2 separate regions of the Homo sapiens genome follow, and region 1 is linked to region 2. Evidence: fine-mapped expression QTL. A gene starts in region 2. The other region holds a variant in brackets. All regions are shown on one strand. Distances are from middle to middle.

Region 1 (10,894 bases), 140 kb after region 2:
AGCAATGGAACAAAGCTGGATGGAGAATGACTTTGACGAGTTGAGAGAAGAAGGCTTCAGAAGATAAAACTACTCTGAGCTAAAGGAGGAAGTTCGAAGCAACAGCAAAGAAGTTAAAAACTTGAAAAAAAATTAGACGAATGGCTAACTAGAATAACCAACGCAGAGAAGTCCTTAAAGGACCTGATGGAGCTGAAAACCACGGCACGAGAACTACGTGACAAATGCACAAGCCTCAGTAGCAGATGCGATCAACTGGAAGAAAGGGTATCAGCGATGGAAGATGAAATGAATGAAATGAAGTGAGAAGAGAAGTTTAGAGAAAAAAGAATAAAAAGAAACGAACAAAGCCTCGAAGAAATATGGGACTATGTGAAAAGACCTAATCTACATCTGATTGGTGTACCTGAAAGTGATGAGGAGAATGGAAACAAGTTGCAAAACACTCTGCAGGATATTATCCAGGAGAACTTCCCCAATCTAGCAAGGCAGGCCAACATTCAAATTCAGGAAATACAGAGAACACCACAAAGATACTCCTCGAGAAGAGCAACTCCAAGACACATAATTGTCAGATTCACCAAAGTTGAAATGAAGGAAAAAATGTTAAGGGCAGCCAGAGAGAAAGGTCGGGTTACCCACAAAGGGAAGCCCATCAGACTAACAGCGGATCTCTCGGCAGAAACCCTACAAAGCCAGAAGAGAGTGGGGGCCAATATTCAACATTCTTAAAGAAAAGAATTTTCAACCCAGAATTTCATATCCAGCCAAACTAAGCTTCATAAGTGAAGGAGAAATAAAATACTTCACAGACAAGCAAATGTTGAGAGATTTTGTCACCACCAGGCCTCCCTAAAAGAGCTCCTGAAGGGAGCACTAAACATGGAAACGAACAACCGGTACCAGCCACTGCAAAATCGTGCCAAATTGTAAAGACCATCGAGGCTAGGAAGAAACTGCATCAACTAATGAGCAAAATAAGCAGCTAACATCATAATGACAGGATCAAATTCACACATAACAATATTAACCTTAAATGTAAATGGACTAAATGCTCCAATTAAAAGACACAGACTGGCAAATTGGATAATGAGTCAAGACCCATCAGTGTGCTGTATTCAGGAAACCCATCTCATGTGCAGAGACACACATAGGCTCAAAATAAAAGGATGGAGGAAGATCTACCAAGCAAATGGAAAACAAAAAAAGGCAGGGGTTGCAATCCTAGTCTCTGATAAAACAGACTTTAAACCAAGAAAGATCAAAAGAGACAAAGAAGGCCATCACATAATGGTAAAGGGATCAATTCAATAAGAAGAGCTAACTATCCTAAATATATATGCACCCAATACAGGAGAACCCAGTTTCATAAAGCAAGTCCTGAGTGACCTACAAAGAGACTTAGACTCCCACACAATAATAATGGGAGACTTTAATACCCCACTGTCAACATTAGACAGATCAATGAGACAGAAAGTTAACAAGGATACCCAGGAATTGAACTCAGCTCTGCATGAAGCAGACCTAATAGACATCTACAGAACTCTCCACCCCAAAACAACAGAATATACATTTTTTTCAGCACCACACCACACCTATTCCAAAATTGACCACATAGTTGGAAGTAAAGTACTCCTCAGCAAATGTAAAAGAACAGAAATTATAACAAACTGTCTCTCAGACCACAGTGCAATCAAACTAGAACTCAGGATTAAGAAACTCACCCAAAACCGCGCAACTGCATGGAAACTGAACAACCTGCTCCTGAATGACTACTGGGTACATAACGAAATGAAGGCAGAAATAAAGATGTTCTTTGAAACCAACGAGAACAAAGACACAACATACCAGAATCTCTGGGACGCATTCAAAGCAGTGTGTAGAGGGAAATTTATAGCACTAAATGCCCACAAGAGAAAGCAGGAAAGATCCAAAATTGACACCCTAACATCACAATTAAAAGAACTAGAGAAGCAAGAGCAAACACATTCAAAAGCTAGCAGAAGGCAAGAAATAACTAAAATCAGAGCAGAACTGAAGGAAATAGAGACACAAAAAACTCTTCGAAAAATTAATGAATCCAGGAGCTGGTTTTTTGAAAGGATCAACAAAATTGATAGACCACTAGCAAGACTAATAAAGAAGAAAAGAGAGAAAAATCAAATAGATGCAATAAAAAATGACAAAGGGGATATCACCACCGATCCCACAGAAATACAAACTACCATCAGAGAATACTATAAACACCTCTACGCAAATAAACCAGAAAATCCAGAAGAAATGGATAAATTCCTCGATACATACACCCTCCCAAGACTAAACCAGGAAGAAGTTGGATCTCTGAATAGACCAATAACAGGCTCTGAAATTGTGGCAATAATCAATAGCTTACCAACCAAAAAGAGTCCAGGACCAGATGGATTCACAGCCGAATTCTACCAGAGGTACAAGGAGAAATTGGGACCATGCCTTCTGAAACTATTCCAATCAATAGAAAAAGAGGGAATCCTCCATAACTCATTTTATGAGGCCAGCATCCTCCTGATACCAAAGCCGGGCAGAGACACAACCAAAAAAGAGAATTTTAGACCAATATCCTTGATGAACATTGATGCAAAAATCCTCAATAAAATACTGGCAAACCGAATCCAGCAGCACATCAAAAAGCTTATCCACCCTGATCAAGTAGGCTTCATCCCTGGGATGCAAGGCTGGTTCAACATATGCAAATCAATAAATGTAATCCAGCATTTAAACAGAACCAACAACAAAAACCATATGATTATCTCAATAGATGCAGAAAAGGCCTTTGACAAAATTCAACAACCCTTCATGCTAAAAACTCTCAATAAATTAGGTATTGATGGGATGTATCTCAAAATAATAAGAGCTATCTATGACAAACCCACAGCCAATATCATACTGAATGGGCAAAAACTGGAAGCATTCCCTTTGAAAACTGGCACAAGACAGGGATGCCCTCTCTCACCACTCCTATTCAACATAGTGTTGGAAGTTCTGGCCAGGGCAATCAGGCAGGAGAAGGAAATAAAAGGTATTCAGTTAGGAAAAGAGGAAGTCAAATTGTCCCTGTTTGCAGATGACATGATTGTATATCTAGAAAACCCCATTGTCTCAGCCCAAAATCTCCTTAACCTGATAAGCAACTTCAGCAAAGTCTCAGGATACAAAATCAATGTACAAAAATCACAAGCATTCTTATACACCAATAACAGACAAACAGAGAGCCAAATCATGAGTGAACTCCCATTCACAATTGCTTCAAAGAGAATAAAATACCTAGGAATCCAACTTGCAAGGGATGTGAAGGACCTCTTCAAGGAGAACTACAAACCACTGCTCAATGAAATAAAAGAGGATACAAACAAATGGAAGAACATTCCGTGCTCATGGGTAGGAAGAATCAATATTGTGAAAATGGCCATACTGCCCAAGGTAATTTATAGATTCAATGCCATCCCCATCAAGCTACCAATGACTTTCTTCACAGAATTGGAAAAAACTGCTTTAAAGTTCATATGGAACCAAAATAGGGCACACATTGCCAAGTCAATCCTAAGCCAAAGGAACAAAGCTGGAGGCATCATGCTACCTGACTTCAAACTATACTACAAGGCTACAGTAACCAAACAGCATGGTACTGGTACCAAAACAGAGACATAGAACAATATAACAGAACAGAGCCATCAGAAATAATGCCACATATCTACAACTATCTAATCTTTCACAAACCTGACAAAAACAAGCAATGGGGAAAGGATTCCCTATTTAATAAATGGTGCTGGGAAAACTGGCTAGCCATATATAGAAAGCTGAAACTGGATCCCTTCCTTACACCTTATACAAAAATCAATTCAAGATGGATTAAAGACTTACATGTTAGACCTAAAACCATAAAAACCCTAGGAGAAAACCTAGGCAATAAGGTTCAGGACATAGCCATGGGCAAGGACTTCATGTCTAAAACACTAAAAGCAATGGCAACAAAAGCCAAAATTGACAAATGGGATCTAATTAAACTAAAGAGCTTCTGCACAGCAAAAGAAACTACCATCAGAGTGAACAGGCAACCTACAGAATGGGAGAAAATTTTCGCAACCTACTCATCTGACAAAGGGCTAATATCCAGAATCTACAATGAACTCAAACAAATTGACAAGAAAAAAACAACCCCATCAAAAAGTGGGCGAAGGATATGAACAGACACTTCTCAAAAGAAGACATTTATGCAGCCAAAAAACACATGAAAAAATGCTCATCATCACTGGCCATCAGAGATATGCAAATCAAAACCACAATGAGATACCATCTCACACCAGTTAGAATGGCGATCATTAAAAAGTCAGGAAACAACAGGTGCTGGAGAGGATGTGGAGAAATAGGAACACTTTTACACTGTTGGTGGGACTGTAAACTTGTTCAACCATTGTGGAAGACAGTGTGGCGATTCCTCAGGGATCTAGAACTAGAAATACCATTTGATCCAGCCATCCCATTACTGGGTATATACCCAAAGGATGATAAATCATGCTGCTATAAAGACACATGCACACCTATGTTTATTGCGGCACTATTCACAATAGCAGAGACTTGGAACCAACCCAAATGTCTAACAATGATAGACTGGATTAAGAAAATGTGGCACATACACACCGTGGAATACTATGCAGCCATAAAAAAGGATGAGTTCATGTCCTTTGTAGGGACATGGATGAAGCTGGAAACCATCATTCTCAGCAAACTATCGCAAGGACAAAAAACCAAACACCGCATGTTCTCACTCATCGGTGGGAATCGAACAATGAGAACACATGGACACAGGAAGGGGAACATCACACTCTGGGGCCTGTTGTGGGGTGGGGGAAGGGGGAGGGATAGCATTAGGAGATATATGTAATGCTAAATGACGAGTTAGTGGGTACAGCACACCAGCATGGCACATGTATACATATGTAACTAACCTGCACATTGTGCACATGTACCCTAAAACTTAAAGTATAATAATAATAAAATAAAATAAAATAAAGAGAATTCTCAAGATGGTATCAAAGCGAAGACCTAATAAACATGTGTAGCAGGTTCAAAAAGCAACCAATCCTAATCGAAACACAAGTACAAAAGGTAAGAATAAACTCCTCCTAAATGGAATGTGCAGATTATCTTACAAATTTTACCATGTAGAAAGCTGTAATGAGAACTACTTTACAAAGAAGTTTGTAGTTTCCAAAAATATAAAAACCAGGCAAGTGAAAAAATAAAAAAATTATTAACTCCAAGAAAACAGAAATTGTATAAGAAATTGAATTATAGCATAAATTATATACTACATATACATATATACTATGCTTTAGCTTGTTTAAACTTTACATAGTATATACAGTATAAACTATACATAGTTTATATTATAATATATATATGGTACAAACTGTATGCACATATTATGACTAAGTAGTATAAATATATAGTATAAACTATATAGATAATACATATAGCACAAATTATATACATACTATATAGTATATATAATTATATATACTCAGTACAAACCATATATTATATATATTCCCACATACAAACTATGTACATATTTAACTACAAAATGGTTATAATAAATTGATGAGTATAGATTCAACCAAAATTTATGATGGTACTATTTCACAAAGAATGGATTCAAGAAAAGAGCTATAAAAAGGCCAAAATAAATAATGCTTTAAAAAGGCAATAGCAGTATTCGCACAGTGTTTTGATATTAGAAGTGGTGAAGATTTTGAAAATGTTTACCTGAGGGAGGTAGGAGTATTCAGAAGGACGAGGCAATTTGAGGTGGAGGGATTAAGAGAATATTGGTTTTTGCTGTAAGCCTCTTAGCATTATTTGACTTTTTAAACTTGTACTCGTTACTTTGATGTTTAAAAAAAAGGAAAATATTAATTTTTTTATAAAATGAAAGAAAGAAGGGAGGAAGGAATGAAGTTATTTCCTTAAAGTAGATTTATGTGCATGCTGTAATACTATAAAAATATTTATACAACCATAGTTCTAGAGACTACAACTGTAGAAAAAAAGCAACTGCCCCAACTCTTCATTTTTTACAACATTCACCTTTAGACTTAAGTATTCAAGTTTAACCCAAGTGATTATATTAAGTCCAAAAACACCGGTTCGTGATTAGTAGGAAGGAACTCTGGCCTGACAGGCTTTAGTTACAATTACTTCTCATACCCTCTCCTATGTGTTTCATGAGGGTTTGGGTCACATTCTTCCAAAGGGATCAAGGATATAGGACACATCTAACTGCTCTGGCAATCCTCACAGTGCTCTATACATAGCAGATAATTCAAAATTTTAATTACAGGTGCAAGAGGGCTCAGACTATTTAATGCGGACGGGAAGATGGAAATTAGTACCTTATTCATAGGGATACAAGAAGAGAATACATCATTCAGATAATATCATTGTAAGCATTCCCAAGGATAAATATGCATGTTCATTACTGTGTAATCCTAGGAGCAAAACAAACCCTCTGTTACATAACTCTTATTTTACCTTTCTTAATCTTTGAGTAATTAACATGGAAAAAAAAGTTGTTTTCTGGGCTACTCCACAGACAAATAGTTTCCCAGCAGAAAGAGACAAGCAAATAAGCCTGAGCATGTGATGGACTTGGAAAGCAATGAATCTTAACAAATTTGCAGTTGAATTATTGAACTGTTAAGACTGCAGAGTTAAACAGAAAAGATCTGGATGAATAAATGGGGTTTTGTTACCTTT[GTTTC/C]TTTGCTTATTTTATTTGTTGAGCTGTTTGTTGCCATGAGCACCAAAAATTATGACATTGCCATTCACATTGAATATTTTTATTTGGAAAATAAGGTTTCACTTACATAGTTGAGGTTCATCAACCACATGAACTGAGAGTGGGAGGTTTACACACACATACACCATAGATTTATTTGCTAAACCACTGATCCTTGTTTATTTTTAGATGAACTACAAAATGGTAGTTCTTCAGTTTAGCGAGTATTTTCTTTGACTCGTTCAACAAATATTTTTTGAGTATCTACCATGTGCTGCGTGCTACTACATACTATATGATCTAGGCCCTGCGCAAGGTGCTAGAAATAGGTGCAGGGAAAAACAGAGTATTTACAATCTAGTGGGTTGGTGGTACAGTTAAGCAATTAAACAAGCAATTATAATAAGACAAGTTAAATGCTTGGAACACATATAGCAGACACACTCAATATATCCTGGGGTTCATGGGTGGGGAGGGCTTAGTCAGCGAAGCTTCCCAATTGAAGTGACATTGAGTGGCACTTGAGGAATGACTAGGAGTTATTCATGCCAAGAAGGATGGAGAAGAGGCAATGAGGCTGAGGAAGGCCAGATACCAAGGAGAGCAGTGAGGAGGCCAGTGCAATAATGGAGAGGAGAGACAATGGTGGCCTGGACTTGGGAAATGGCAGTGGTGTTAGAGAAAAAGAGATGGGTCTGAGAGCCATTAAGGAGGCACAATTGTCAGGATTCCATGACTTACTGGATGTGAGAGATGAGGGAGAAGGAAACACAGCTGCAGGTTTCTGATTTGGACAACTGGGTGCATGGTGGGTGTTATTCACTGAGCCATCACTTACAAGGGGAGCAGGTTGAGGGGGGCAGATGATGAGTTCAGTTCTGAATATGTTCAGTTTGAGGTACATGGCAGGCATCGAACTGGAGATTTCTATCACGTAATTGGACTATAGGGTCTGAGCTGCAGATATAGATTTGGAAGATAATGATCTCAGAGCAGATAGTTGAAGCCATGGCTTTTGATCCGATTATCCAGAGAAAGTCTACAGACTGAGAAAAGCAGAGGTCAGAAAACAGACCCTGTAGTCTACTGACCTTTAGGGAACAAGCCAAGGGAAGAGATTAAAAAGAAGCCTGAGAGGCCCGACACAGTGGCTCATGCCTGTAATCCCAGCACTTTGGGAGGGTGAGGCAGGTAGATCACTTGAGGTCAGGAGTTCGAGATCAGCCTGGCCAATGTGGTGAAACCCCATCTCTACGTGCCACCATGCCCAACTTATTTACAAATTAAACTGGTGAAAGACAGACAAACAGGAGAGCAAAAGCATATGAATTGTATTTGATGCGTAGCTTTTATATGACACAGGGATCTTCCTACCAAAAAAGTGAAGAACGAAGAAGCAAACTCTCTCAGACGAGAGTTTATATACCGTTTTTAACAACAACAAGAAAGATAAATTGCAGAGATGGCACAAGACAAAGGAAGAAAGTTTTTAGGCTTCTAAGGGCTGCAAACTGGGGAGGTAAATATATAGAGAAAACTAATGGAAAATAAGGGCTATCTTATCAAGCTTTGTTTGTGCAGGTCCATCTTGGTGCCAACTTGCCGTCTTCCTCACAGTCATAAAATTTGCCCAAGAAAGGGGATTTATGGCAATCCTCAGTTCTCAGAAGTTTCTGCTTTTAGTCAGATAATGGGAACTCTAGAAGGACTTCATTTTGCATCTGTTGATTCTCCATTTTCTTCAGCTGAAAATGATCCCTGTGCCAAACTGGCATATTTTGGGTTGGCATAGTCTAATCCCCTTCAGTGGTAAAGTGTCACACACCACAGAGAGATCAATTCAATTCAAAAAATATTTATTGAGCACCAACTATGTGCCAGGCATGTGCTAGTGGGTAATGAGGATAGAGTAGTGAAAAACAGAAGCCCGGTCATTATCATCAAAAAAAGAGAAAAACGGCCATGAAATTTGGGATTGTGGAGAACATTTGCAATTTGCAGTAGCAGTTTCAATGGAGGGGAAGGTGAGAGGCTAGGTTATAGTGGACTGAGGTGAGACTCAGAAGTGAGGAAGGGCACTGGAAAATGGAGACAACTCTTTCAAGAAGTGTGACCATACAGGAGAAAAGAATAATGAACAGCAACTTTAAAGAAGATGGGGAGCCAAGGATGAGGGGTTATTTTGTTGACTTTGTTTGTTTCATATTATTTGAGAATATTGAACATGCTTATATGCAAAAATAAATGTGCCACAGAGAAAAACAGGTTAATACTACAGAAAAAAGGAGGTAGGCCGGGCCCTGTGGCTCACGCCTGTAATCCCAGAACTTTGGCAGGCCGAGGCAAGAGGATCACCTGAGGTCAGAAGTTCAAGACAAGCCTGGCCAACATGGAGAAACACCATCTTTACTAAAAATACAAAAACTAGCCAGGCATGATGGCAGGCACCTGTAATCCCAGCTACTTGAGAGGCTGAGGCAGAGAGAATTGCTTGAACCTGGGAGGCGGAGGTTGCAGTGAGTGGAGATCACGCCACTGTACTCCAGCCTGGGTGACAGAGCTAGACACCCTCTCAAAAAAAAAAGAAAGAAAGAAAGTGAAAAAGAAAGAAGTAGTTTATGAAGATGATTTCTGAGGGAAAACAATGAGACATGGGTAGGGAAATATGTAGTTCACCTTGCAAGTCTTACCTGTGTCATCTCCTCTCCTGTCCTAGCCTCATCCCAGCTCTGGAGGGAGCATTCAGCTATATAAACACCACCCCACTTCATTCCTGTAATCCCTGACCAAGAGCTTTAAATACCTAAACCCTAGGAATTTGGAAATAATTGGTAGAACTCTAATGCCTCAGAGCCAAAGCTTGGGCATTTCAAAAGGCTATCAAAAGCAGCCTTTCTTTCTCATCCTCACCAACCTCTGAACTAGAGAGCGATCAGATCACCTTTCTGCCCCCTTCTACCCAGCCTCTGGTAATGGTGGAGAAGTTCCTCTGTTTTTCTCAAATCCCCAGACACTAGTATAAAGAGAGGGGCAGGAGGGTGAGGAGAGACTCCTGCCTTATATCCCAGGTACCTGATCAGGTACACACACATACATACATACATACATACATACACACATACACACACACACACACATCTCTGCAAACTTATGCCTTGGGCCTGGATCCTACCCTATTCCTCATCCTGGCATAAGCCTGCTTTGCCTTGTTCCATCAGCATTTCTATTCTGCAATTTAAAATTATTTCCTATGCCAATCCTCCTGAAGGAGGCTCCCCTTGGCCCTCCAATACCAGCTTGGAGCTGGACCAAATTTCTGTCACTCCTGCTTGACTTCATCTACCTTCCTGTAATCTCCCCATCCCCAGCTCATGCTCTCCTGGGTTCACAACATGCCTTGAGGTCAGTGCTGTCAGCACCTCCCAAGGGATGTCAGGGTTGATAAGGAAATTTGCAAGGCCTTGACTCTGAAGTCAAAAACACAAAACATATTTAAGTGAAATCGCCTCCTTTTGCTAGCCTAAAATCTAGATTTTTACATGTTTTTGAGGAACACAAAAGTGTTTCTGTGGGCAGTATTGAGCAGGGACTTAATTAATTATTAACGGGTATAAAGGAAAGAACACTGAATCAACCACAATTCAGGTTCCCACTTGCTTTTTTTTTTTTTTTTTTTTGAGACAGTGTCTTGCTCTGTTGCCCAGGCTGGAGTGCAGTGGTATCTCGGCTCAGCACAACCTCTGCCTCCCATGTTCAAGTGATTCTCCTGCCTTAGCCTCCTGAGTAGCTGGGACTACAGGCGCAGGCCCCCAGGCCCAGCTAATTTTTGTATTTTTAGTAGAGACAGGGTTTCACTATGTTGGCCAGGCTGGTCTCCAACTTCTGACCTCGTAATCTGCCCACCTCAGCCTCCCAAAGTGCTGGGATTACAGGCATGAGCCACCACACCCGGCTAGCATTTCTTAATTCTGTGAGTTTTGGCAAATGTTCAAGGTCTCTTAGTCTTACTTTTCTTATCTGCGAAATGGGGATGATTATAGCTATGTTCTAAACACCTTATGAATGATCTCATGTAATCCT
Region 2 (10,894 bases):
AAACAACAATTAAAAAAAAAACAGCTTCACATCTGTGTTCGCATCTGAAGTTGCTCTGTAAGATCTGATAACTTGTTAGAAAGCAATCTTTTTTGCAAGGCAGTAGATTTACATCATACATTTTTCTCTCTCCAAGGAAATTCTAATTACTGGTTCCAATCATTTCTGATTGATTTGCTTTTTATTCTTCCAAGGTATTCTCTGCTTTATGATGAAATCAAGCCTTCAATAAAATTCCAAAAATTTTAGAACAATTTACAAGCTCCAGATGACTGAAAGTTTTCTCATGTCCGTTTGGCATTCAGAAAGAGAGTTTCACCAAGTATATTCTGAAGAAGAATACATCTGGCACTCACTAAAACAAAGAACTCACCAGTGACATACTTGAGGCAAATTAATGTTGCGTAAATGCAAATTTGCCAATATTCTTTGAGGCCAAAGCTGCAATCCAACCTCCATATATTTCAATGAGTCCTCTTCTAATGCGCAGGCCACCAGTCACATGAGTGAATGTTTGGGGCATATTTTAGCAATCAATTTAATAACTACACATTATCTTCTATGTACAAATTTAAAATTGCTTATGTGTAATGTGGATTTTTTAAAGAAAAGACTTAGCATCTGTTGAAGACTTGCCTAAGTTCATGTCTTCTCTTGGCCTGATGCAAACTCCAAATCATTGACAAAAAGACAACATAGAAACAAAGAATTTTAGCCCTAGAAAAAAAATTAAAAACCATCTCTTTCAAAGACTTGTTTCAGTAATATAAAGCATATCAGAAATCCAAATGTGTATTCATCATGGGAATATTTTCATGGATAATGTAAATTCTGCTATTCAAAAATACTGAATTTTTATGCATCAATAAGAAAGCAGTCCAAGAAAATAAATAATTTAATCAACATTATTCTTGCAAGAGTCCATTATAGGGCTATCAGTAGTGAATGATCCATTTTTATCAATTCAGTAAGAATACTAGTGTTTTTAAATGAATTCTTTCTGTAAGAAGGAGAGGGTTTTTTCCATCAATTCTGGTTCCAGCCTTGGCTTCTCCTTCAGCAGTTTCCTAGGAGAATATACTTTCACAAATCAAGTGGACCCAAATGTTGCCTGGTTTGGATACATGGCCAGAAACTGTGGGCTAATTCTGTGATTCATATCTTGGTCTCTAGCATGCCAGGGATGCCCACTGTGGGTCCCCGTTGAACACAGTTACTCTACACTTTGATTAAGCACTCTTAAGACTCAGCCACACTGATAGTACATGTTTGATTAAGACACACATTCCAAAGGATACAGAGACATAGATCATAGTGCTCAGTGTGTGATCATCAACATCTGTGAATCTCTTCTAAAATTATGAGTTTGTCACCACATACATCTTCAAATCTTCCTTTTTTTTTTTTGAAACAGTCTTGCTCCGTCACCCAGGCTGGAGTGCAGTGGCGTGATCTTGGCTCACTGCAACCTCCTGAGTAGCTGGAATTACAGGCGCGCACCACCATGCCCAGCTAATTTTTGTATTTTTAGTAGAGAAGGGGTTTTGCTGTGTTGACCAGGCTGGTTTTGAACTCCTGGCCTTAAGTGAATCACCTGCCTCAGCCTCCCAAAATGCTGGGATTACAAGTGTGAACCACCGTGCCCAGCCCAAATCTTTAAAATCTCAGATTCCTCTGAGCTCAGAGCAATTTTAGGAAGGTGAATTTACTGCAATTTCCACTTGCATTCTGCTAAATCCATGCATCCAGTTTGAATCCATAAAGTTGGACTCCATTAAATAAATCATCCAGCAGGGTGCAGTGGCTCCCGCCTGTAATCCCAGCACTTTGGGATGCCGAGGCAGGTGGATCACAAGGTCAGGAGATCGAGACCATCCTGCCCAACATGGTGAAATCCTGTCTCCACTAAAAATACAAAAATTAGCCAGGTGTGGTGGTGTGCGCCTGTATTCCCAGCTACTCAGGAGGCTGAGGCAGAAGAATTGCTTGAGCCCAGGAGGCGGAGGTTGCACTGAGCCAAGATAGTGCCACTGCACTCCAGCCTGGGTGACAGAGGGAGACTCCATTTCAAAAAAAAAAAAAAAAAATTATCAAAATTTAAAATGTTTGCTCTCAAGAGACAGCATTAACAAATTGGAAAGACAAGACAAAGACTAGAAAGAATGTTCGAAAAATGTAAATCTGAAGAGGACTTGCAGGAAGACTATTTTTAAAAACTCTTACAACTAATAAGACCAAAAAATAAAGAAATGAACACAAATTTGAAATAAAATATATTGATGGACAATAAGCATACGAAAAGCAAAATTCAACATCACTGGACATCAGAGAAATGTAAAATAAAACCACAGTGAAATACCACTTACACACCCACCAGAATGGCTAACATTGTAAATTACTGACAATACCAGAAGTTGGCAAGGATTTCAGGCAAATTGAATCTCACATATTGCTGGTAAGAACATAAAATAACACACTCACTTTATAAAACAGTTTGACACTTTCTTATACTGTTAAACATACCCCTACCATATGACAGCAATTTCACTCCTAAGCGTTTATCTAAAAGAAAACATATCCCAGCAAAGACTTAGAAGTGAATGTCCGTAACAGATTTATTCATAAACAATCCAAGTATCTATTAAGATGTAAACAAACAAATCAGGGTATATACATACAATGGAATACTACTCAGCAATAAAAAGGAATGTGTTTCTCATACACCTAATAACAAGGATGCATCTCAAGCAACATGCTGAGTGAAGGAAGTCAGACCCGAAAGAGTATTTACTCTATGATTTCATTCATATGAACTCCCACTGCAAAAAGGCTGCAGGAGAACAAGGTTGTAAACAAGGAGACCAATTAGGAGGATGTTGCAATAATACAGTTGGAAAATGGTGGTGGCTTAGACCAGAGTGGTTGCAAAAGAGGTGATGAGAAGTGGTTCCATTCTGGATATATCATGAAGGTGAAGCCAACAGAATTTCCTGAAGGATAGAATGCAGGATATCTCAGAAAAAGAGAAATCAAGGATGACTCCATGGTCCTGAATCTGAGCAAATAGAAAGATGAAACTGCTTTAACTGAGATGGTGAAGGTGGGTGGAGTAGGTTGGGGGATGATAACAGCAGTTGTGTTCAGTTTGAAACATCCATTAGATGTCCAAATGAAGATAGCAAGTTGGCAGCTGGATATATAGGAACAGTTCCAGGCTGGAGATATAAATTTGAGAGTTTTCACCCCATTTTTCTGGAAAAGTGGCTGGGAACAGGTAGAAAGAGTTTAAGAGAAACAGGAAAAACCATGTGCACAGATCTTCTTACTGTACAAAAAGTAAAGATCCATTTAAAAAAAATCTGGAGGTCATTAATGACTTGGGGGAAAACACTAGAATTTTGATAGTAAAAATATTTGATACAATTACCAAAACTCTGTATACTCAAGTAAGGTTTAGGGAGGGTTGTACACCTCCCCTCTGATCTTGTCCAATACTGTGTGGCTTGCTACCAAACTGGCAATGTCTAGGTAACCCACACTGGATACCCCAGAGATAAAGAGAGCAGCTTCCACCTGATAACCTCCCTCTCCTGCAGTCGCTACCACCCTCCCACCTTGAGTCAGCAGGAAAGGAAAGGAGCTTTTCCTCTCCTCCTGAGCTCTGCCTCCTGCTCAAGGACAGAGTCAAAGTTTTAACCCCTTCAGTTTGTAAGTTTTCTCATTCATGAAATTGTATTTGGCCATTTGCTTCTTAGAAGACAGCTGCCTTGGAAGCAAGCTATTAGTATGACTTTAGAGTTGGAGCCTTCAGAGGTAACTGCAATTTGTGTGGTATGATTTGATAAAAACAGAAAAAAAGATTTTTCTCTCCAGATTCCTGAAATTCCACTATGAAAGGTGAAAGTGAAATGCCCAACTTTGAATGAGCAGTATTGGAGATTTCACTAAGTCAATAAGTGAAGAAAAGAGAAGCTATAGATGAAAAAAGAAACCCATAAAAAGGGAGACTTTTTATTATATATTGACAAATTATAGTTGTATATATTAATAGGGTACAAGGTGTTATGATTTTTTAATACAATGTGTAATAATTAAACCAAGCTAATTAATATATCCATCACCTCAAATATTTGACATTTTTTGTGATGAGAACATTTGAAATTTACTCTCTTAGTGATAATGAAATATACAGTACTCAATTATCAGCTTTATTCACGACACCGTGCAATTGAACTTTAAAAAAATCAAACTTTTCCTCTCTTTTTTTTTTAGATGGAGTCTCACTCTGTCACTCAGAGGGATGATCTCAGCTCACTGCAACCTCTGCCTTCCGGGGTTCAAGCGATCATCCTGCCTCAGCCTCCCGAGTAGCTGGGATTACAGGCACGTGTCTAATTTTTGTATTTTTAGTAGAGATGGGGTTTCTCCATGTTGGCCAGGCTGGTCTTGAACTCCTGACCTCAGGTGATCTGCCCACCTTGGCTGCCCAAAGTGCTGGGATTACAGGCATGAGCCACTGCACCCAACCCTTATTCATCCTATCTAATTGAGGCTTACACTCTTTGACTGTTATCTCTCCATTCCCTGCAACCCTAGCCTCTGGTAACCACCATTCTACTCTCTGCTTCTATGAGTTCAATTGTTTTAAGTTACTTTCAGATACTTGAGAACATGTGGTATTTGTGTTTCTACATTTGGCTTATTTCACTGTGCATAATGTTTTCCACTTCCATCCATGGTGTCACAAATGACAGAATTTCTTTTTTAAGGCTAAATAGTATTCCACACATACACACAGACACATAAAATGGAATACTATTCTCTTTTAAATTTTGTATGCCTAATAATTCATGGTTAAAGGACAAGATAATAACTATTTTTGAGTATCCCGCTGTGGAGACACGATCTCCTTTGATCCTTGCAGCAATGTGTAAGGTAAGTGGCATCATCTTCCTTCTATTAATGGTAGAACTGAAGATCAAAGAGAGTGTCTAACTTGCTTAGGGCTACATAGCCAAGTGGTGAAGCTAAACTCAGTCTAGGCTTACTTGATAGTACACTAACATTAAATGTCTAGGAGTAAATATCTAAAACAAACTGTAAGTCTTCTCTATTTACCATACAAATTATTCAAGTGAACTGCCATTTTTGCCTGGCTTGAAAGATACTTTTCAGAAGAATGGGCTCATATACACATGCACGCGCGCACACACACACACACAATGGAATACTATTTAGCCTTAAAAACGCATATATATCTAAAATATATGTGTGTACATATTTTATATATATATGTGTTTATATATATAATATATATTATATTTGTATACACACACACATATATGCCACATTTTCTTTATCCATTTATCCCTTGATGGACACTTAGGTTGATTCCATATCTTGGCAATTGTGAATAGTGCTGCAATAAACATGAAAGTACAGACGTCTCTTCAACACACTGATTTCAAATCTTCCCAGTAAATACCCAGAAATGAGATTGCTGGATCATATGATAATTCTACTTTCAGTTTTTTGAGAAACCTCCATACAATTTTCCATCATGTTTGTACTAATTTACATTCCACCAACAGCATACAAGCATTCCCTTTTCTCCATTCTTGCCAACACTTGTTATCATAAAGGGAGGTTTGAGAGACCATAAAACAAACCCCACCTCACAATTTTGTTAGTGCAAGTTCTATTTGGCCTATTCCCAACACTAAGCACACAGTAGGTGGCAAATATTTGTTGAATGGATGAATTCTCATTTTTCTCCATTTGTGGAAGCAGACACCTCCTCAAAAAAAAAAAAAAATCCGAAAGAAAAGGTAAAGGAAACAGTTCTATGAATGGGGGTTAATTTACTCTCCTAGCATTCACTTATTGGGAAAAAAAGTAACAGCAGTTTCTAGAACCCTCTGGTCTCTGAGGGAGATGCTGTGTTCCCCTCCTCAGAGAAGAAGAAAACGCACTAGAGAGTGGGAGCATCCCCAAGGCTGAAGCGCATCCAGGACATCACATGTCAACGTGTCCTCTCTGGCGTGGGGTCCCCGCGAGTCTGGGAAACGAGGAGCTGGCAAGGGAGGGCAAGCGGGGGCGGCAAAGAGGGCCCCTGGAGCAGGGGGCGCGGACCTCGCTGCGCTGCGCGCTCTACCGCCGGGCTCGCAACGCTGGGCTCAGCGCTCGCGCCTCCCTCAGCTCTCTCCTCCGCCCCCCTTCGCCCTCCCCCTTTCCCTCCCTTTCTCCTCCTCCTCCTGCCGCCGCGGCCGCTGCCGGACTTCGCCAGATCAGACCCACGGGGCTGCCCTCCCCTGCGCACTCCCCTCGCTGCCCGGGCCCGGAGCGCAGCGCGGCCGCACAGGTAGGAGCCCCCAACGGGGGGTCGCCCCGAGCGAGCCCAGTACTCACTGGGCCGCGCGCGGGAGAGTGAGGTGGGGTGAGCTGAGGGGTGTTGAGTACCCGAGAACTGCCCTGGACTGTGCAGGGTGTCTCGGGCAGAGAGGGAGGTGGAGGTGTGCAGCCTCGGAATGCGATCTGTCAGCAAGTGCGAGTACTCGGGTGACATCTGTTGGGATGGGCATGTGTGTGCGCGCCGACAACCAGCCGGCAGGGCTTTGCCCATAAACGTGGTTTTGAAAGTTTAGGGGACCAGTGTGCGAGATTTAAGCCGCACCTGGATTCCATAGGAGCTGGTTAGAAGCTGGGACGCTGAGCAGCTCCAGGGGACCGCCGCGTTAGCTTGCTGTTAAGAAAGGGGACCTCATCTCCCTGCCGGGCCAGGCCGCCCGCCCGAAACTGGTACCTTGGGCTGCGGTGCGATCCCTGGTTCCGGTCCTAGGCAGCCTGAAACCGAAGGTAGCGTGTCGGGGACCCAGACTGATAAGACAAAAGAGAATCAGTCGCTTTGGGCTGCCCCTCCACACAACCTGGGACTTTTAAACAAAGCTGTGCGCAGAGAAAGGCGTGGAAATGCCACTTTGAGAGTTTGTGCTGGGGGATGTGAGAAGCTCTGAGACATGTGAGAAGGTCTAGTATTCTACTAGAACTGGAAGATTGCTCTCCGAGTTTTGTTTTGTTATTTTGTTTAAAAAATAAAAAGCTTGAGGCCAAGGCAATTCATATTGGCTCACAGGTATTTTTGCTGTGCTGTGCAAGGAACTCTGCTAGCTCAAGGTGAGTATACTGGGAAAGCCTTAACGTTCTAGAGAACAGAGTTTTGCAGCCCCACCTCCATCCCCCGGGGTGTGGGACTGGGGGGCAGGAAATGCACCGTCCCCTTTGAAATGGATTACTGTTTTTTCCTTTCGACCCCCTCTTTCTGCAGCCTGCTTTGTAGGTGCAGTATAAAATGCACGCTGAATGTCTTTTGTATGTAAACAGCGTAGCAGGATGGAGTAACGTGAAATGCAATTCTACAGCAGTTTTTACGTCTTTGCTGCCTCGTTCGTTGGCTACCGAGAAGGTTCAGGAGGGGGAGGGGAGATGAGAAAGCAGATTGGAAGTTGAGTATGGTGGAGCCTCAGCCTCTCCCACCCTCCTTTCCTCGCTTGTGCTCACTGCTAAAGTTTTGTTACTTTCCCCGCAGCAGATACTAAACATTAGTTTGTCCTGTATTTTCTTTGAGATTCACAATGTTGAAAGCCCTTTTCCTAACTATGCTGACTCTGGCGCTGGTCAAGTCACAGGACACCGAAGAAACCATCACGTACACGGTAAGGGGTGATGGAATTTGAAATAAGTACGGTTCAGCGGGATTCTGTGACAAAAAAAGACTTTACACACCCCTGCCAGTGTATTTGGGCTATACTCTGCTGAGGGTGATAAATTAAACAACACTTCATTCATGCTTCATATCTAAGATTCGTTGTAAATTGCCCCCTTGATCCTTTCAAAAGTTCATTGGGCTCACCACCTAAGATAGGAACCAACATGTAATCATTTGTGCAGGGCTAAAAATGGGATCCGTTCAAAAACTAAAACCAAAGAAAGTTACATGTTTCCAAAACATTCAACAAATTAATGGGTGTAAGGAACTGGAAAACCTGGACTCCTACCACATGCAGATAAAACCAATACGTGCAGAATAAGACTCAAGTCAAGTAAGAACGTTAAACACCATAAAGACACATGGCCTTCTTTGTGTACATGACATGCATTCTCAAGTAAGTGGCCTTTATTGAATTTATAAAGGCTATATATTCATTCTTTTTGTATAACTTGATAATTCTAATAAATAAAGGCAGACAACAGTTTATGTGTTACCAGGATGCATATTGGCTAAAGTGGTTTTAAAACGTAATGTGTGCAACTCCGTTTTGCATTTTCTAATTAGCGTCTCTGATATTTCCAAGTAATATTTGATTAGTTAGTTGCATAGGTGTAACCAATGTTTAATAAAATATTAAAAAGATCACCTGACCCCTCCCACTGCTACAAATAGTTGTGGTGAGAACAGAGAAGGACAGTACTGACTTCACTTCTGGTGAGTTTGTTTGCACCTCTGTTCTGTGTTTTCTTGTCTTTAATCAGTGTTAGGCAAATGACATTTGTCCTGGATTGGAATATGAAAAGCACATTTTTCTACTGCTCCCAGTTTAAAATTAAGTAATCCTACTCGAAAGAATGTGAAAAATTTTTGAAAAGAAAACTCTTAAAAATGAACTAATGTCAATTACTGATAATAAACATTATCTCACTTTTTGGTACCACATTATCCCTAGAATGTTAGTATTCATCTGGCAAATGTTCCTTTCTGTTGTTCAGATCCACTATAAATAAAATAGCTTAATACAAATATTTTGTTAACTTCATGTTAAATGCAGTTGCTTCCTCTGCTGAAGATAAATTAAGCAAGAAAAATGAAGGCATGTGCTGTTTATCTTAAAATGAAAATGTTTTGTTATTCAGACTAAACTTACTGCCTTCTCAGGGAGCTAAAATTAAATTCACTACCCACTTTTATAATCATCTCATAAAAGATTTTACTTCTTTTCCAGTTGCTTATCTTCTATGCCCTTCCCTTTGCTAATCACCTAAATCTTCCTCATTTTTACCAGAGAAGGTTCCCTGTGGCTTAAACATGATAGTTTTAAGACCACTAACTAGGGTTCATTATTATTGTAACAAATTTTCCAGATATGTTACCCTTTTGTGCTAAGATTGGGCCTATTCTCCTTTAAATTTTGTATGCCTAATAATTCATGGTTAAAGGACAAGATAATAACTATTTCTGAGTATCCCGCTGTGGAGACACGATCTCCTTTGATCCTTGCGGCAATGTGTAAGGTAAGTGGCATCATCTTCCTTCCACTAATGGTAGAACTGAAGATCAGAGAGAGTGTCTAACTTGCTTAGGGCTACATAGCCAAGTGGTGAAGCTAAACTCAGTCTAGGCTTACTTAATAGTACACTGACATTAAATGTCTAGAAGTAAATACCTAAAACAAATTGCAAGTCTTCTCTATTTACCATACAAATTATTCAAGTGAACTGCCATTTTTGCCTGGCTTGAAAGATACTTTTCAGAAGAATGGGCTCGTATCCACATAATAGCCTCATAGTCCTCTTCCATATTAAAGATGGTGTCCATTCAGCTGTTTACTCAACAACTATCTGCATAAGCAATTCTCATCACTATTAAAAGAATTTGTTTGTTTACTAAGAAAATTCAGTCTCCTCTTGGAGAATTTAGCCTGGGAAGACAGTGTTGAAAACTACAAAGTTCCTAAGCAAGGACAAATGATACTATTATACAGATTATACAAATTGCCAAGGAAATAGAAAAGCAAGGAGGTGATTAATGTTGGTGCCAGCATATTAGAGGAGACAGAACTCTGTGCTGGTTCTTGAAGGAAGTGATGACCTTGGTTGGATTGATCTAGAAAGGCTGAAGAGGCACCTGAGTCAGAGAGTGGCATAATCAAAAGCTAGAGCTGAAAGCACCTGAGACCAATCCAGGTGGTGATAAGGTCAGATCAGCTGGAACTGGGTAGTGGGAAGAACCCAGAGATGGTGATGATGAGAGATCTGCAGGTCACTGTGAGGTCTCAGAGAGAGGAGCAACATAACCAAGAGCACAAGAAAGATCATGGGGTCTGTATGCAGCATGTAGAGATGCGGGGCCTTGCCTACTCATGGGCCAGCAAAAGCCTTTCTTAGTAGACATGGTAGAAATGGACACAAAGTCAGCAGAGATGGAAGGAAAATAAGTGGAGCATTCAGCACTGATGTTAAAGTTGGAATCCTGGGTTTCGAAAAAGGTAGTGGTACCTTTAACACTGTTTGGGAAACAAGAAAAAAATTAGTCTGAGAGACAAAGTGAATTTAGTTCTCGCTCCAGTAAGTTTCAGACATCAGTAAAATATCTAAATGGATCTCTGGGCTTCCATTCAGCTATTTCCTTGTCAAGCATCCATTGTGTACATAAGCAGCTCTCAGTTATATTAAAAGAATTTAAGTTTATTTGTTTGTTTACTCCACTTTTGCTCAATCCTTCCTTGGGCTTCTTCCTTACAGTGACTTTCTCAAATGAGCGTCTGATCAGATTGTTTCCTGAGCTTAAAAATTCTTCAGAGGCCTCTTATCGCCTGTAGCAACATTTCTCAAGAAGTAGTTCCTAGACAACCTGTATGGGAATCGCCTGGGATACTTGCTAAGAATTTAGATTCCAGGCCCCCTACCCAGACCTACAGAATCAAATCCTTTGGGTGGGCCCAGGAATCTTCATTTTAACAAGAACCCTGAATGATCCTTAGACACAATAAAGCTTGAGATTCACTGACCTTCAGGGTAGAATTCAGGCTTCCATTCCTAAAGAAAGGCTTTCTTGTTTTGGCCCTGCCTACCTCTGTAACCTCATCCTCCACCTACCCAGAACTCCTTGCAGCTCCTTCCC

Which allele goes with the higher level. Positions count from the first base shown, and alleles are read on the strand shown. Sizes are in standard deviations (SD) of each study's normalised expression.
With allele C in place of GTTTC in region 1, the expression in cerebellum of the gene that starts at base 6,290 in region 2 is lower (small effect, 0.38 SD a copy in GTEx).

The links. PIP is the estimated chance that this variant, and not a neighbour inherited with it, causes the effect.
Region 1: its variant is fine-mapped to the expression of EFEMP1 in cerebellum (GTEx, PIP above 0.99).

What each region holds. Positions count from the first base shown.
Region 1 is chr2:55,782,260-55,793,153 of GRCh38, reverse strand. No RefSeq gene overlaps it. Among named protein-coding and RNA genes, the nearest start is that of PNPT1, 94 kb to the right of the region's middle. The variant GTTTC/C (reference allele first, on the strand shown) is at 6,793.
Region 2 is chr2:55,919,178-55,930,071 of GRCh38, reverse strand. EFEMP1 (EGF containing fibulin extracellular matrix protein 1) reads left to right here and starts at 6,290. Exons shown (of 12, transcript NM_001039348.3): 1 at 6,290-6,361; 2 at 7,133-7,173; 3 at 7,625-7,712. The coding sequence starts at 7,632. RefSeq lists an enhancer at 6,231-6,730.